Homo sapiens: one gene and its partner. The protein of the gene in region 2 interacts with the protein of the main gene of each other region in a pairwise test. Each region holds a gene or a part of one and is shown on either strand. Other genes may lie near its edges.

The links.
Region 1: the proteins of KALRN (region 2) and ATXN7 interact in a two-hybrid assay, tested with the Homo sapiens proteins (one study listed by BioGRID and IntAct).

The regions. Positions count from the first base shown.
Region 1 is NC_000003.12:63,982,367-63,985,866, forward strand, and holds part of ATXN7 (ataxin-7), read left to right. Parts: coding exon 1-79; intron 80-572; coding exon 573-655; intron 656-3,500. UniProt on the Homo sapiens protein: Acts as a component of the SAGA (aka STAGA) transcription coactivator-HAT complex. Mediates the interaction of SAGA complex with the CRX and is involved in CRX-dependent gene activation.
Region 2 is NC_000003.12:124,666,369-124,669,868, forward strand, and holds part of KALRN (kalirin), read left to right. Parts: intron 1-80; coding exon 81-266; intron 267-643; coding exon 644-815; intron 816-3,500. UniProt on the Homo sapiens protein: Promotes the exchange of GDP by GTP. Activates specific Rho GTPase family members, thereby inducing various signaling mechanisms that regulate neuronal shape, growth, and plasticity, through their effects on the actin cytoskeleton.

The sequences.
Region 1 (3,500 bases), about 61 Mb from region 2:
CTTCCTGCACCGCCCACTCTGGAAAAGAAACCTGAAGACAATTCCAATAATAGGAAATTTTTAAATAAGAGATTATCAGGTAACTTCAAATTTTCTTTCTTCATAATGCTTCTCTATATATTAAATGGGCATTCGTGGGGAGCAAATCAACTGCAATCTAGAATTCCTATTTTTAAAACTGGTCAACTTCAGCTTTAGGAGGAAGTTCCTTAGTTAATATGTTTGTTCTTTTCACTCTTGGGTTTTAAAGAGCATGAGTGTGTGTGTGTGTGTGTGTGTGTGTGTGTGTGTGTCATGTAAAAGTAGCTTTCTAGTGGTGTATTTCTGAAGGAAGTAATACAGACTTAAACAATATCTTTTCTACCATCTGATGGCAGTAGTCACCCCCTGTCTTAGTGATGTTGCTGCTTTGTTGCAGCACTCACACGTTGTATATTTTTTATTTTATTGATAATGTGGCTTTTATTCCAGCTATAATTTATCTAACTGTTGATTTCTTCTATTTTCTTGCTTAAAAAATACATGGAGGAGAGTTTGTCAGGCCACATGTAATGCCTGTGTTCTTTTGACAGAAAGAGAGTTTGATCCTGACATCCACTGTGGGGTTATTGATCTCGACACCAAGAAGCCCTGCACCCGGTCTTTGACATGCAAGGTAGGTGGACTCCTGAAAGTCAAGTCGACCATCCTGATAAACATGGGTGACTGGGATGTACCACACTACTCCCACAGTCTCTCTAACCCAGAGAAGATGCTCTGTGGATTGTTGTGAATTGTGTAGGTGAAGGAATAACTTGGTTCTGTTGAAGAAAGCCTCAGATTGACAAAATGTGAAGTGCGTTGTTATAAATTATAATCTTGACAGAGGTTTTGTTTCTAATGAGCAGTGTTGTATCCACAGGAATAGTGTTCTCTCCCAGTCTGTTATTTTTAAAAACTTTTAATATTTCCATATAGGCTACCCTTGACTGTGCTTTAAATTATACTGGCTTAAAGCAAGTGCAGAAATTTCCCTTGCGTGTGTATGAACATTTAAAAAATGTGTCACCCATGGTCTTAAATTTTAAAGAACCACTTTTTAAAAAATCTGTGATTTTGAAATATCCCTGTTTTCTAGTTTAAAAAAAAAATACTGCAAGCCAGGCATGCCTGTAAGTCCCAGCTAGTGGGGAGGCTGAGGCAGAAGGATTGCTTGAGCCTAGGAGTTTGAGTCCAGCCTGGAGAACATTACGAGACCCATCTCTTTTAAGAGAAAAAAAAAACTAGATAAAATATATTAATAATTTATATACAAGCTAAGAAAATGTAATGGTCTTCCTTTTTGCTCTGGGGTCTTCCTTCTTTTAAAATGCCAGTATGCTAATAAGGTATATTTGCTGAAAAGTGTGGGTTATTGATGTGGGGTGGCTTCAGGTCATCAGTGAACACCTCTACATAAATGAGCTTGTATGTTGATGTGCATTTCTCTGGAGGGTGTCCCCAGCTACCCCCCAGATAGGTTCAAGAAGCATTCAGAGTCACTGCTTTGAAGTATGTAATTTTAAAACCTTAGAGGGAGGAAGTAAAAATGATAAAAGTTAGCATTTTCTTCTAAAAATTAATAAAATTGTTAGTGTTTTACTTTAAATTTTATTAAAGTGTATTTGAATAAAGGACTTCAGGCCCTGTCCCATGCCCCAGCCAGTGGAGGCATGTTACAGTCTTCTGGAGTGGGAAATTTTTAAGTGGTTCTTACTTTAAGCTTCTAATTTAATTTTAGTATATAGATTTTGTCTTACAACAGTGGTTCAGAACCTTTTTGGGGAAAAGGGTTGGTCAAGAGTACCTTTAAATATCTCATTTTTAAAAAAAAAAAACCACGGTCCATCTTCCGAGAATAAAATAGTGCATACACATACACATTCTGAATTTTTCTATCTTGGATTAATGGACACCCCCACCCCAAGCCCATCCTTGGATTTCTAGGTTAAAAACTCTCATAAAACAAACTGCTTTTTTTTTGTATAGGGTACTAATTGGACACACAGTGGTGTAGTGGTGGTGGTGTATGAAGATAGCCACCTGAGTTCTGTAGAATTATGTCAGTTTCAGCTGTCCCTAAGAGAATGTGTGAAAGCATGCCTCAGCCCTGTCCACATCATGATCACAACTTGCCATTCTCCTTCTGCGCTCTTCCTGCCTACCTGACTCTCAGTAACATGGATTTCTCAGTAATACAGTACCTGTGGGCAATGAGGTTTGCTTTTTTCAAACCCAAGATGTTCTTTTTCAGTCATTTACAAAGCGTGGCAGGGAACCACACCTTTAAGTGTGCAAGACAGTATTGTTGACTGTGAAAGAATATTATACAGCAGATGTCTAGAACTTGTTCATCTTGCTATAACTGAAACTTTATGCTCATTGATTAGTAACTCCTTATTTCGCTCTCCCTTCAGCCGCTGGCAGCCACCACTCTAGTTGTTGATTCTGTGAGTTTGATTATAGATCTCATATAAGTGGAATCATGCGGTGTTTAGTCATTATGTGACTGGGTTATTTATCTTAGTATAATGTCTTCAAGCTTACCTCATACTTGTTGTAGCATATTGCAGAATTTCCTTCTTTTTAAGGGCTGAATAGTATTCCAGTGTATGTATATACTATGTTGTCTTCATCCAGTCACCTGTTGACAGACATTTATATTGTTTCTACATCTTGTCTATTATAAATAATACTTCAGTGAACATAGGAGTTCTAATAGCTCTTTGAGATTCTGATTTCAGTTATTTTGGATAACTACCCAGAAGTGAGGTTGCCAAAAGTTTTTTTTCAACTCAAAATCTTCAAGGAGCTTGACTGGCATTCTTCCTGTGCCTTTATTGCTAGGTGGAGTGACTTTGAATGGGTCTGCATTTTTCTCACATCTTCCTTTTCAAATGATATATGCTCCCCTTGTCGTCCTTCTTTAAGGGTGTCATTACTCTCCGTGGCATTGGGCTAAGCCTGTCATTGCATTAATAAGTCTTGAGACCCAGCTTGTCATGAGATCAGCATAGAACTGGCAGAAAATGCAGCATCCACCAGGCCTGCCCTTTTACAGGATGACTTGACTTTTTTTCATTGTTTTGTCAGTTCTTTTCCTTTTCCTTGCCTTCACGTTGGTCTGAATCTATTAAGCTTGGTAGGGCTAAACATGCCTGCATGTCCCTACCCTGAGTGTTTCCCAAGTTGCTGCCAGGTCTCTTCTGTCTTAGACTTAGAACGTTATCTGTTCTCTTCACCGTCAGGGGATTTGCTGCTGTTCATTCCCATTACTCATTCTCTGTTGTCTGTCTCCCATCCTCACTGCCCCTCCTCACTTCTTCATCTGTCTAATATCCCGTCGAAAGTCCTCTGTGCCTTCCACGCGGAGAGATTTGTGACTCCTGTAGCCTTTGTCCATTCACTCATTGTAGAACTTTTTATTACGTACATCTGTGAGCACAGGCCTCACTCTTTCTAGGTCGCAGGGAATAAAGGGT
Region 2 (3,500 bases):
GGGGAGGTTCTGTGGACCCAGAGGGCAGTGGCTCGCTCCCCATTTTTCATTCACTTCACCCCAGCCCGTCTTTCCTTCAGGGCACTCTGACTGCTCAGGGGAAGCTGCTGCAGCAGGACACATTCTATGTGATCGAGCTGGATGCAGGCATGCAGTCCCGGACCAAAGAGAGGCGCGTGTTCCTCTTCGAGCAGATTGTCATCTTCAGTGAACTGCTCAGGAAGGGATCCCTCACCCCTGGCTACATGTTCAAAAGGAGCATCAAGGTGAGGATCCCAATGGTGATGAGAAGAGGCAAGGAAGAGCCCAGTTCTTGGGAGCTGCTTCCCTAAGACGAGGCCCTGGAGTTGTGACATCCAGAACCGTGAAGATCTTTCAGCCGAATAACATTCGGTCATGGAGGCTGCACGACAGTGATTATCTGTGAGCTGAAGTGACAGGCTGAGCCAGTCTCTGGCATGATCCTGCAGGTTCCCTGGGATCGTGTCACTCACCCAGAGACAAAAACCTAAGTACTGTCCTGCTAGATCCAGGGCAAAATTTGGAAGCTTGTCCTGAAATAGAAACTTTGAGGAAGAGTAATATGTTGCTGATTTTTAAAAAATCTTTTAAATGTAAAAAGGATCAACTCGTTTTCTTCCAGATGAATTACTTGGTCCTGGAGGAGAATGTGGACAATGATCCCTGCAAGTTTGCACTCATGAACAGAGAGACTTCTGAGAGGGTTGTTCTGCAAGCCGCCAACGCTGACATCCAGCAGGCCTGGGTGCAGGACATCAATCAAGTCTTAGAAACACAGCGAGACTTTTTGAATGGTGGGTGCTGGGCTTGGTTCCTTGCAGGGCTGTGTCAGGGGACTCCACGACCTCTGAGCTTCCTTGGGTCTAGGTTCATGTTGAGTTATGAACCCAGATCACATTTTATAGGTACTCCAACTTTGTAGTTTTCAGAAACACTTTAGAATTTTTCTGAAGCTGAATACACAAGCACAACAGATAGGGTATGAAAAAGAAGCTCCATCTTTCTGATAGAAGAGATTTCACTTATAGGACACAGGATATATGTCTTGTGGCCATCACTACCACCTGGTACTAATTTGGGCAAAAGTCTGAGATAGGCACATCCTCTGTGTCTAAGGAACCAGGACCGGCTAGAAATGATATGTGTTTTTCCACTTTTCACAGCTTCTGTAGTGTTAACTAGAGATAAATGAGAGTTTGACCAATCAGTTCAAATCCCTCCTCTGCTCCCAACAGTGTGAGAGCCTACATAAGCCACATTACTAGCCAACCTTACCCCTTTTAAATGAGAGATGATTGCTAACTTTAAATTTCTGTAATACCCTGAAACTTCCTAGAAGAAAATTTGTGGTTACACAGAGGGTGTAGCTCTTTGTGGCCCTTGCAGGAGCTCCCTCATGGGTGGTGTGAACTGGAGTGAAGTAGAGTTGCCACTTTGTATATATTTCTTTATTTTTTCCCCTGCTGGGGTTTTCTTCACACTGAGCTTGGCATGGGAAAGGGGTATGCGATTTTAAGCTAGTGGCTGATCTCTGCTGACTTGGTTAGCTCAGAAGTCTAACCAAGCAGAAATAGAGCTTGAAGTTGAATGCAAAATGTAACTAGTAATGAAGTAAACCTGAAGACTCAGAAAACACATATGCCTGTATATCGAGACACACACACACACACACACACACACACACACACACACACACACACACACAACCACCTTTGGGTATACCACCTCTTCCTGCCTGTCCTGAGATCCGTCCTACATGGCCATACGTGCTCACAGGAGCGCACACACAGGTACATGCATGTACACACGTACAGGCCCACCCTCGGGTGTGTCACCTTTTCATGCCAGTACTAGGATCTGGACTCTTTCAAATGATCCAAATACAGCATTTTCTGGATGTCTAGAATGGAACTGAATGCTGAAGGGAAAGATAAAAGGTGCCATACGAGTTGAGGACCTTGAGGAGTCATGACATTTCTCTGGGCCTTGTGGCTGGTTTTGTGAAAAAGGGAGTTCAGGTAGATCTACTTTGCCCATGCTGGCATGCTCTGTGATGGGCCAGTCTTCCTGGAAGCAGGACACCTGGCATCCTCCCTACAATATCAGTTTCCCTGTATTATAAGGGATTTAGCACAGTGTTTTAAAGACAAATAGAAGGAGATCATGTAACAGGATGCCACGACTTTTTAAGATAGAACATGAGACTTCAAAGCAATTTTGCACTTACAGAAAGTATTTTTGGGCCAGGCTCCTGGCCCTCAACTGTAAAAAAAATTTGGTGAAAAACAACTAGACTAAGTGATCTCTAGGATTCTTTTCACTCTAAAATGTCTAAAATTAAACACCAGCCCAGCCCTGAGGGATGGTAATGAAAGTTTTATATGGCTTATGATTTCTGAATATAATATACAACTTCAAATGAACACTTTTGTTGATAAAATAATTTTATGCAAAAATGTGTTCATATATAAAAATATCTGTTTAAATTGCATTCTATTAGGAGTTTCTGATAGATTCTAAGCTGAAATTAGGAATTTTAAAATTCATCAATTTGGGACAAAAGAAAAATAAGGTGCAACAGTAAGTTGAAACAAGAAGTTATTGACATAACAATAATGGCTCCTGTGTATTGAATCCTTGCTCTGTGCCAGGCACTATGCTAAGCATTTTACATGGTTTTTCACATTTAATCCTCACGCCAACATGGAGAGGTAAGTACTATTGTCCTACTTTTTTCAAGTGAGGAAAAGGAGACTCAGAACTTGTCCAAGGTCACAGAAGCAGTAAGTGATAGAAACAGGACTTGAATCCACAGCTATAGGACTTCAAATTAAGGTTGTGAACCACAAAACTGCAGTATAGGTGCTAGTGTTAGGGCACTCATTTATTTAATTATGATCTCCCTAGCAACCAAAGTGAAGAAAGAAACAGGATCAGACATAAGACACTGTATCGATCAGTCAAAAACAAACCCTGTAGGGACGCACAGTTTTCTTGATTCTGAGAATTAAGTTATGCAAATGGAGGCTGGTGAAAGAATACAGGCTGTCCATTTAGCTTATTTAAGAAGGCATTCTATTTTCAAATGTTTTAGCACAATTATTGTAAATAACCAGGTAATATCACAATTCCATGTGATGGGAATTGATTCATAAAATCAGTTTGATAAGGCCTACTTTATAACTCTGCTATGTACTTAGAACTTGGAACTGTATTTATTTAGGCATAGTCAATGATTCAGACCTTTACTTCGTTCCAAGAGACCTTTCTCCTAATGAATCATGGAGATACAGTCAGCCCTTGGTATCCACAGGGAATTGGTTCCAAGACCTCCCGAGGATACCAGAGTCTGTGGATGCTCAAGTCCCTTACATAAAATGGCATAGTGTTTGCATATGACCTGTGTACATCATCCTGTACTTTAAATCATCTCTAGATTGTTTATAATACCCGATATAATGTACATGCTATGTAAATGA